Linked DNA regions of Homo sapiens: region 1 is linked to region 2. A link means that fine-mapping ties the variant in region 2 to the expression of a gene that starts in the linked region. Tissue or cell type: skeletal muscle. Region 2 holds a variant in brackets; the other region holds the start of a gene. All regions are shown on one strand. Distances are between the middles of the regions.

Region 1 (5,000 bases), 170 kb after region 2:
GAACGCTTTGCAATCAAGTTGGGCAGCTCTGATAGTGGCTACAGTGCAACTGTTGGGAAAGTTAAACATCTAGAGATGCTCAACACCCCATCTCCTTTCCACACTGAAAGGCAGGGTAACAATAAGGTCTGAGCAGCAGGTGCTGGGAGAGCCTGGGCCTAGAAGTGGGCCTGCCGCGGGTTCTGGGTGGGGAGTAATGGTGGGCAAACACAGGCTTATCAAGTGCAGCAGGGTAACCTCAGGAAAGGCCTGCTCTTGGTTACAAGATCCTTGCGTACAAACAGAGCCACCCCCTCCAAGTATCTTTGGTATTTCTGGTGCCAATAGGTTTGGTGGCAGAGCGGGGATGGCCTGGGAGTCACAATGCTCAGACTGGGAGCCTGAGAGCTGGAGAAGAGTGAAAAGACCCACAGAAAAGAAAGACAGTGAGCGCTAAGCCCCCTCGGGCCAGCCCCTCTCTTAGGCAGGAAGGCTAGACGAGCTTATTCCAGGAATCAGCAAATCCACCAGAGCCACGTGTTCAAATGCAGGTGGCTGGGCCCCCAACAGATTGAAGCAGACTCTCCAGGGAAGAGTATTGGAATCCATATAGAACATTGTCCCTGCAAAACTGCAATTGGATAGGCTTGGGCAACGCAGCCACAGTGAATAGCTGCATCACGGGAACATCAACCACACCTGGACATTAAAATCATCCGGAAAATGAAAAAGATCCTGAGGCTTGAGCCCTCCCCCAAACCTAGAAACCAGAATGTCTGGGGGTGGGACCCACACAGTTTTTTTTTGTTTTTTTTTTTTTGTTTGTTTCTTTAACTGCTCCTCAAGTGATTCCAGTATAGCTCCTGGGCTACAACCCCCACCCCAGGCTAGTATACTCCAGGGTTCCAGTAGAACTGTGCTGAGCCTCAGTTTCCCCATCTCTAAAATGGGGTTCTTAGTGCCTGCCCAGACAAGGCCTTTGTGAGGATGACATTTCTGAGCATTGGAGGCAAGCAGGCACTGGGCCAAGTAATCTGAATATGAATTGTCACATTTCATCCTCATGACATCTCCCCTCCCCGATGTAACAGCCCTGAGAGTTTAGAATTTCTCTGGCATCAGGCTCCTGGGCCCAGGCAAAGGTGTGGCAGGGAGGAGACAGCTGTCTCAGGAGGACCTATTCCCAGCCACTGGGGTGGAAGTTCCACGCTGGGAAAGGATTTACTATTTGTTTCAGAAAATGCAGCGAGGGCCTTGCCACAGGGAGTGAGAACTTTGGTGTGCTCTGCTCGCATCGACAAACCAACCTGTGAGCTTCTCCACTAAAAAAGCAAGTGAGCATCACAGCGAACCAGAGGCCACCGTCATCCCTCGAACCAGAGGCCACCGCCATCCCCCAAACCAGAGGCCGCCATCCCCCGAACCAGAGGCCACTGCCATTCCCTGAACCAGAGGCCACTGCCATCCCCCAAACCAGAGGCCACTGCCATCCCCCAAACCAGAGGCCACCGCCATCCCCCGAACCAGAGGCCACCGCCATCCCCCGTGGGTTGCCGCCTGGCACTGCTGACGCAGCAGAGGCAGAGGTGTGTTTACTTTCCCTCAGTGGAGGTGACGGGGAGCTGCCACTCTATCAGGGGTTCCACAGGCCCCTGCCATGGTAAGGGGCCTCCATCGATTAGGGAGGCCTTGGGGTAGCCCCCAGAAGGCTCCCCACATACTGCTCCAGGCCTCCTTTTCCTAGCCTTGCGACTGAGCCCAGCTCAAGAGGACTCAGCCATGCTCTCTAACCTCCTAAGGTCTGAGGTCACTGCACAGCCCCAAATGAGTGGGTCCTGGGCAAATAGTTTAGGCAGGTGGAGACCTGACGCTGGGCCTCAACCCCCGCAGCCGAGGGTCCCAGAGGAGGGCAAAGGTTGCTCCTCCTAGAACAGCACAGTGCAGCGCCCAGAGAGCTGTGAGGGAAGCTGGCATTCGAACCCCACTGCCCCCTGGGAAGCCTGGCTAACCGAAGCGCAGGCTTTGGTTTCCATAAATACCCGGGCCCGTGATGTCACCGCCCCGTGCAGACTTTCACAGCCTCTGCTGCTGGCGTGAGGCCCAGCACACAGCCGCTCTGCTGCCAGCCCACAGAACACCTGGGCACACAGCTGGACACTGATGCCTCCGTGCTAGGGACGGTGGGCTGGACCTTCACCTGCCCTTGGAGGACGCAGCATCCTGGCCACTGCCTCAGCCTGCCTGCGACCTTCTATCAGGCATGGCTGAAGGGCTGGCCATGGGCGTGCTGGGCAGAGATTCTCTTCCTAAACAGGCTATGGGCTAAACCAAAGCCAAAACAGTAGGAGCCGGTCTGGGCACCCTGAATGTGGATCTGGGAGGGGGGATACCTGCTCTCACAGTTGGGAATTTCACAGCCTGCTGAAGACCTGCTGACTAATAGCCTTTTTCTCATCGTCATCACCAACAAACACCTCCGCTGCAGGGGCCGAGCGCCGGCATCCCTGCTGGGTGGCCAGCTCCCTCTGCAAGTCACCTGCACATCCACCTGCCCCTCCCCCAACGATGCCCCTCACTCCAGCTCCCAGCTCAGCCGGGCCCCTCTGGCCTCTGGCTTCAGGCAGAAACCTGCCACATATACTCACAAATAGCGTCTTCTGCAAGCCATCCTGTGTGAATCCGTTCTTCCCTGTTCTGGCTCCCTCTCCAGCGGGGAGGCTCAACGTGTTTCCAAGAGGAGCAGGCGGCTCAGGCAAGAAGTGGAGGGGAATAAAATTAAATCGCGGGGCGAGTCACATTCCCGGGGGTGGCGGGCTCCTCCAGGGAGGCTGGGGCGGGAGCGGGGGGCGGCGCCAGCAGCGGGCTGTGGAGGGCCCTGGCACGTAGCGCGCGCTCACACCGTGCCCAGGAGCGAGCGAGGACGTCGAGTAACCGTGGTCGCCAGGCTGGGCGGGGGCGTCCACCTCGCTGCTACCTGGGCCCACCTTGGGGTTTTTCCCTCCCGTCCATCCGGGGTGCGGGGCGCGGGGATGAGGAGGGGAGGGTCGAGAGAAGGCTGCCCCGGGTTTGCTCTCGCAGCATCCGGAGAAGGGGCGGGCGCGCCGGAGCCTCCCCCACCCCCCGCGCCCAAGGAGCAACGTAGTGCGGCCGCGCCGGACCAATCGCCGAGGCGCTGGTCGCCATGGCAACAGCAGCATCAGGCGCGGCCGCTCGGCTGCGCCCTCGCGGCAAAGTCACACACCCGGCGGGGCGCGGGGCGCCGGCCCCTTCCTGGCCCGCGCTGGAAACCTGGAAGTCTGTTGCTAAAATGCACGCGCCGCGCGGAGCCTACGATGACACTACTTTCCAAGGCGGCTTTTCTGCCTTCGGCACTGAGACACGCGAGCCGCGGAGCTCTCGGGGCTCTGGCCCTGGAGTGAGGCCGGCCGACTCCAAGGCTGTCTCTGCCACTGAAGGGCGATGAGACCTTGGCAAGCCGCGTCTCTCCTGGGAGTCTTGATTATGCTACTGTGAAAGGGATCATAACAGCTATACCACGGGGTTCCAGGAGGGCGCACCACGCCAGTAGCTGCACGGTGGATGGCAGAGCAGTCCTCGTTTGTGCCAGTCCTGTCCCAAAGGGGGCTGCACGTGGCTAGGGAGAATTTCTGGTCTAGCTATGGTGCCTCTTCCTCTCCCGAGGACCTTCCATGTGCCGGGCAAGTATCTGCCCTCATGATGTTTACAGTCTAAGGGGAAGCCAGGAAGTAAGTGTGCAGATATAGGATTGCACGTGGTGATAAGGATCAGGATGAAAAGAGAGCAGGAAGAGGGGAGGCAGGGACCCCAAGAGAGGCGGGAAGGAGGCTTCTGCCATCAGACGGGGTGGTCGGGAAGGCCCTCTGTGAGGCACGTGTGGCTGAGACTCGGATGACGCAAGAAGCAGGGGAGGAGCTGGCGTCAAGGCTCTGAGGCGGAAGGCAGCCTGGTGTATTTGACTGGCCCAGAGGAGGCCAGCGTGGTGCAGTGTGCGACAGGGAGGTGGAGGGGAGAAGCGCACATCCATCCTCGGCTCCCACACCCGCCTTTCCCACACAGATTTCTCTCTTCCTGTCTGATGTTCATCTGATCCTCTCTGCTTCCTCATCTGTAAACCAGGAATCCCAGACCTATCTCAGAGGCATGTAGATAATATTCTTCCGTGCACGGTAATCCTCAAGACAACCCCAATGAGGCCTAATACTATCATCCTACTTCACGGGGGAGCGCATTAAAGCCAGAGGTTCAGCAACTGGCCCAAGCCACATAGCTGGCGGGCAGTCTGGCTCCAGAGTCTTGGTTCTTGACTGCTTGAAAGCTGCCTCACTGGGAGGAATAAATGAGAGAGGGAGTAGTTGAGACTGGGAATCGGCTGGATGTGGATGGCAGCCCACAGGGCCATTTCCCTTCCTCTTTCCATTCTCTCCAGATTCACACTCACCGAATTTAGAAGGAGTGATGCTGCATCCTTGAGTTCCATTCCATCCTTTACAGGGGAGGAAATGAACCTCAGGGGGTGAGCGATTTGCCTAAAGTTGCACAGCAAAGAGTGGCAGAGGTGGGACTAGGACCCCAGTCTTCCAGCTCAGTGTCCTGGTAGGGAGCAGAGGTTGGAGCTGCGGCCTCAGGTGGCCAAGGTGAGGCATCGAACAGAACTGCATGACGCTTCCCGATCTGCCCTCTCCAGGTGAATCCATATGCATGACCAATCTTCCTGTAGCACGGACCTCCCTCCCTGAGTCATGTGAGGAATTCATATTTCTGTGGGTTAACATGTTGCAGAGCCCACCCCACCCCTCTCCTCACTGGAGTTTCAAAAGATTTTAATAACATCAAAATTCAGCCACTGCATCAGGAGGGCTCACTTTGTGTCAGGTCCAGTTGTTTCATGGTCTCAGTGAATTCTCAGAAGCGCCCTACGAAGTGAACATAATTACCACTCCTGCTTAGATGGGTTGCACCACATACGGGGGTCTCCCATCAAGGCAGCAGCAGAGCCCAGA
Region 2 (5,508 bases):
ACCGGGTTTCCGCTGCATGGGGCTATACGGTGAAGAACATGGTCATGGAGGGCTTGCAGGGCTGGGCTGTCAGAAACACCAAGGGGACATGGGTGCCCAGAGTAGAGGTCTGGGCTGGAGATGACATGTGGAAGCCAGGGGCATGGAGAAGGTGGACTGAAACCGTGGGCTTGTGTGAGGGTGCCTCAGGAGAGGGGAAAGGGAGGAAGAGGGCTTGGACTTGACCTAAGCCACACACGAGCTCCGTGGAGGAGGACTGGCCTGCACAGGAGACTGAAGGAGTCTCCAGAGAGCAGAAAGGGCACATGGCCCAGAGGTGCCCGGGAACCAGCATTTCAAGGAGGCAGGCACGAACAGTCACAGCTGCCGAGGGGTCAGGGAAGCTAAACATGTTCCTGGGATTCGGTGGCACAGAAGTCACATGCAGCCAGGGAGGAGGAAGAACCATGATCTCAAGGTCTGAGTCAGGTGTCTCCCAGCCAGACTTAAGTGTTAAGGGAAGTGGGGGGGATGAGCAAACCGGTTTCCATACGTTTTTTAATTATGTCAGTGATCGGTATTCTCAAACACCAGCTGCTGCTGGTGGTGTGACCTGAACCCCTGCCTCTTCCAGCCATCCATTAATTTTCAGATAGATGCATGCCGACAAGCCCAGTCCTGGGGCTGTCACTGGACACACACAGGCGGATCATGCAGCTCACAATCTCAGGGCAGGGGGAGACAAACACAATCCCCAGAAGATCACCGCCTCGGAGCCCTGGCCTAGCTCACCTACCTCCAGCAGCTCCTGGGCTGTAGATCTGCGTAGTAAAAATCAAACCCTGAGGCAGAACCGGGTATTTCAGGGAATTTTTGTACCCAGCTTCTCTTGAAGGGCCCCTGAATAGTCTGTAAAAGGGATGGACGCCCAGTTGCAGAAACAGGCATTGTGCAAGGCACTTGTGTGTGTGCACTGAAATGGCTGGTTTCCTGGTTTCAGTCTAGATGAGCCAGTAGTGGCTATGAATGAGACTGGAAGAGGGGGCCCCTGTGAGAACATCTTTCAATCAGAATGTGCTGTACGGAGGGAGGGCCAGAGTTCATTTTGGTCACCAAAATTAACTTTTTTTTGTTTGGTTTTCCACTAGTTAGATCTGCCAGTTCCTTTTATCCCATGCACTGAAAGTTTAAAGTGGTGTTCTCAGGAATTATGTTTGGCCAGGAAAGGAGAAATCGCAGAAGCCAATTACATCCTCACAGGCCCCTTCCTTCCAGGAGAATGACTTTACCATCTTGGCTTTTGTACATGATATGAGCCAACATGGAAACGCAGGCTGCTCTGAACTCCTGTCATCATCCATCTTTACTGGGGACTGGGCCACTGGGTATTTTTTTCCCTAAGTCATAATCAGTGTACCTCAACGCTTAATAGAATTCATCCCCTCTAACTCCATGAAAGGACCATCACTTGTTGAAAGTTGCTAGAAATTATAAATACCTTTGAAACCTTCTATTGGTTGTGATGTGTCCCTTTATTTTAAATTTTGTATCAGTGTCCTCAGTCAGTCCAATGTCTTCAAGGAAAGTGAGTGCCCAGAGTCACAACAAGTAATGGGGAAACTCATCAGCTGGAGATCTGGGTCTGGCCAACAGGGCAACTTCTGGACTTTTCAGAAAAAGTGAGAATCCGAGAGTTTCAAAGGATTTATTTGATTTCCCCACATGATCACAACCATGGTTTTACATTGATAGAGTCTGTTGCCACTGACAAACAGAATGCAGATGAAAACAAACGCACTCCTTTCCTCTCAAAGGTACACAGTGGGGGTGCCAGGCTTCTTGTGAGGGAGGTGTCCCTTGAAGTCTCTGAACAGTCTGGGGATTCAGGACCTGATTCTAATTGCTTAAAACAACTCGGAGGCAAAAGATATTTTCCAAGAGGAGATGCATGCTGTGTGCAGTCTCGATGTGACTGCACACAGAAGGGCGATGCAGATGCATCTGAATGGAGGGCAGGCCTCCTCCCTCTTGTCCTGTGCTCAGCACCCCCACCTCACCCTGCTCAGTGTTGCAATGCTGCCTTGACTATTGTTGTTACATAAAATACAAATGTACTCGTTTCTCAGGCAGGAAGGGTGATGATATTTTACAAGGAGAACTGTAAGACTGTGCGTGCTTACCTGCGGGCACAGAGCTTCCCGTGGCGCTGAGTCAACACCCAGCATCAGCTGTGAACATCTGCTGTCTTTTCAGCTCATTAAGAAAAACAAGAGGCTCCTGCTGCATGCAGTGTGTGAGGGAAAGATCACTGCACTGGGTGCTGAAGACATTTTTAAGCAAGATGTGCACAGCATATTAGGATGAACTTTATTTTTACATTGTTGTACAATTCATTGGTAAACTTAAAAAAATACAAATACATGATTTGATTGTTGTCCCAGAAAAGACTTTTGTCACATTGCCAGCTGTTTCCCTCAGCGTCTCCTGCTCCTGTCAGCAATTCTGTATGTAACTGCAGTAATTTGTGTGACTTGAGAAAGGTGTGCCAAGGGCGTCCTCACAGTGAGAAGGGACCAGGCAGACATCCTGGGGCCCTCGGCCTCCTCCTGCCTCCCCTCCCAGGGGATGTGATGACAGGACCCCGAAGCTGTGGCTCTGACAGGTGGGATCTCTAAAGGGGACAGTCCCATGAAAGACACACGGGGACACCAGCTCACTGGGAGCTTTTGCTTTCCCAAACAAGATGTGGGCAGCATGACTCCAGCCTCTGGAACCCAACAATGTATCTTCCACAAACTTTTGATAAGCTTGCAAATAAAACAGAATGAAACCTCACTAGCCTGAAGGAACACACTGAGTGCGGCGGGAAACCCCGGGAAGGGCTCAGTGGGTTCCAGCAGTTCCTTACGCGAGGCCCTGCTGCCCAGCACAGCTCCAGGACACACCGAGGACAGTGCCACAGGCTGGCAGCCCGAGGCTGTGGAGCTTGCAGGATGGCGATGGAGAGGGAGAGTTTCCTGAAAGCCCCTCCTGGGGTTTTCTGTCTGTTCCTATTCATTACTGCTACCCTTCAGAAAGAGCAATTCTGTGCCAAACGGCCTGAATCTTTTCTGGAACAACCTAAAGGTTACAGTTAGACTCTCCTCCCAGCACAGAAGAGGGTGAGAAAAGCTGACATACTCAATATGTAATCGCTTTACTTCAACGATGTGTTTACAGTCACGCCAATACATTTTGCAAACGCACAACACGCAGAGCGCAGCCTCACAGCTGACGCCAGATGACATGCAGCAGTTTAACGCTTCCAGGTCGGAACAGCCTCCTCAAAATTGCGAGA[C/CAA]AGAGTGCTTTGGGGAGCCTGGCTTTTAAAAAAGACCCGAGAATTGATGAGTCGGAGACACCAGGGCGCTTCCCTGACAGCCCAGCCTGGACCCAATCACACGGTCCCATGCTGTTTCTTTCTGAGCAGACACCAAAGAAATGCCACGCCAATGGGAGGACACAGGTGGGCGGGTTAAAGTCACATTTTTAAAAAGGCTAAACTCTAGATTGCTGTATTTGCTCTCTCTGGAGATTAACAAAGTGCTTGGTTTGCAGATTTGCTGGTACGGTGATCTCAATGATATGACCGAGGGTGGGAGGGATGTGAGGAGGGAAATCGGCAAAACCCTGGCCAGCCAGCCAGCCAAGGTGACACACAGCCAGAGGGGGCTCCCCTCTCCTCCTGCCGTCCGGCCACGGCTCACCACGCTGTCCACTGGGAACGCGGCCCCGCGGCCCGCAGAGTCAGGCGTGAGCTTCGCCCTTTCTGAAAGGGCCTCCGCCTGGGCAGGCGCCGGGGGGCAGTCCTCGGGTCCCATGGCTTAGGAGCACAGCACTGACGGCTGCAGTGGCTCGAAAGGCTGAAACTACAAAGTATGGCCCGTGGGTGACTCGGGCACAGACCTGCCGCGTGCAGGTCTGGCCCTGGGGAGCGCATGGTGTCACCACAACACAGAAGCGACAAGAGCACAGCTGAGAGTCATGTGATGCCCTGGCAGCTCACTGGACCATGGGAAGGCAGCGGGGGCTCCGCCGGGCACTCGTCGGCTGGGGTCACACGGGCCACGGTGAGGACACAGGGGTTCTGCTAGCACATGGCTACATGGAATTACGGTGATCACTGCTACCACTCAGAAAACAAAACGGGAAACACACACACCGCCCTGGGTTGCTAAACGCTAAAGTCAACCTTCAGGTTCGAGAGTGGTTCCTGATGAAAACACTCTCTGAGGGCTTCGGCCTGGTGTGGGTTGGAGGCGGGATGAGGACGTTATGGTGTTGGGGAGACGAGGATGAGAGCTGGTCACTTTCATGTTGGAGATGAACACTTCTGCCGTGTATGGGTGCCCCTCTCGGAGGACTCTGAATGAGTGTGCGTCAAATCATATGCGCATAAAAGAAACATGGATCATGGAGAGTCACAGTTATCGCAGCCATTAAAGTGTCTAAGAATCCGTGTAACCAATGTCCTAAGACAACCAGCTTGTAACCAGCTGTCCTGAGTTGCTACTGTAGAGTGTACTGCAGTTTAGCTATTTGCTTACCTGAAATAACAGCATTATAATACTATTTATGATAGTATTCTGTTAATAAAATAAGGATTTATACAAAGCAATACTGGACTTTTTAAACAGTTAGATGCTATGTTACTTGGCACAGTTAGTAATGATTGTGTAAAGATTTTAGCCAGTCCTAGAGGGACTTCTTTGTATGAAAATATGAAGTATCTGAATTTGTTCCTAGCATTTAGGGTTTGGTCTATTGTCTCACACACCCAGCTAAGGTACTGTCTTCCTATTAGGTAAGTGGAGCTCCTTGTAAGGTGGGTATTGCTAATGTGGACTGAAACGCCTGCCTTTCACACACAAGTACTACCTATACAGTATATATATATATATATTTATATATTTATATATTTATATAAAGTTTACTTACGTATTTTCATCAACCATATCAGGTCTACTTATTTTTTTGCCCATTGTCAATAAAAGAGCAATAATGCAGCAAGTTTTGGGGTTTGTTTTGTCTGTTTTTGTATCTCATTTCTTCGTTTTCTAGGTTGGGTTTTCATATGCATGTACATTAGGGCACAGGGAGCTGAGAGCTGGAGTGGGGGAGGCAGTTCAACACTACTTGGCTGGCTCACCGTTTCAAGGCTGATGGTGTCTGAGGCCCACCCATCCCTCAGACTGAGGTGAGCAGAGCCCAGGGTGCCAACAAGAAATGAAATCTGGGCCTTTGTTCCACACAACACCAGCCCTGTGGGCTCCTGGGGCTCCGGTTGGGCCGTGAGGGGCAGAGGGGAGAGATGGCAACAGAAGTGCCCCGGGTTTGGTGTGCGGCTGGCGACCCCCGGGCGTGCCCTGTGTGGTGTGCAGGTGTTTCAGGGAGCCTGGGACCCCTACCCAGGCTGTCTACACAATTGTGCTGATGCCGCTGGGTTTGGCCTTGCTGCTGGTGGGGGGCGGCGGGGCAGGGGGCTGCCCATGG

The links. PIP is the estimated chance that this variant, and not a neighbour inherited with it, causes the effect.
Region 1: it holds the start of IQSEC1, and the variant in region 2 is fine-mapped to the expression of IQSEC1 in skeletal muscle (GTEx, PIP 0.98).

Annotation. Positions count from the first base shown.
Region 1 is chr3:13,070,368-13,075,367 of GRCh38, forward strand. It overlaps IQSEC1 (IQ motif and Sec7 domain ArfGEF 1), which reads right to left and starts at 3,062. Exons shown (of 14, transcript NM_001134382.3): 1 at 2,625-3,062. The coding sequence starts at 2,647. RefSeq lists silencers at 2,978-3,137, 3,258-3,437.
Region 2 is chr3:12,895,551-12,901,058 of GRCh38, forward strand. IQSEC1 (IQ motif and Sec7 domain ArfGEF 1) reads right to left here. Exons shown (of 14, transcript NM_001134382.3): 14 at 1,493-5,508. The coding sequence ends at 5,433. All of the region lies in intron 4 of LOC105376956 (a long non-coding RNA gene), which reads left to right. Among named protein-coding and RNA genes, the nearest start is that of LINC02022, 13 kb to the left of the region's middle. The variant C/CAA (reference allele first, on the strand shown) is at 3,317.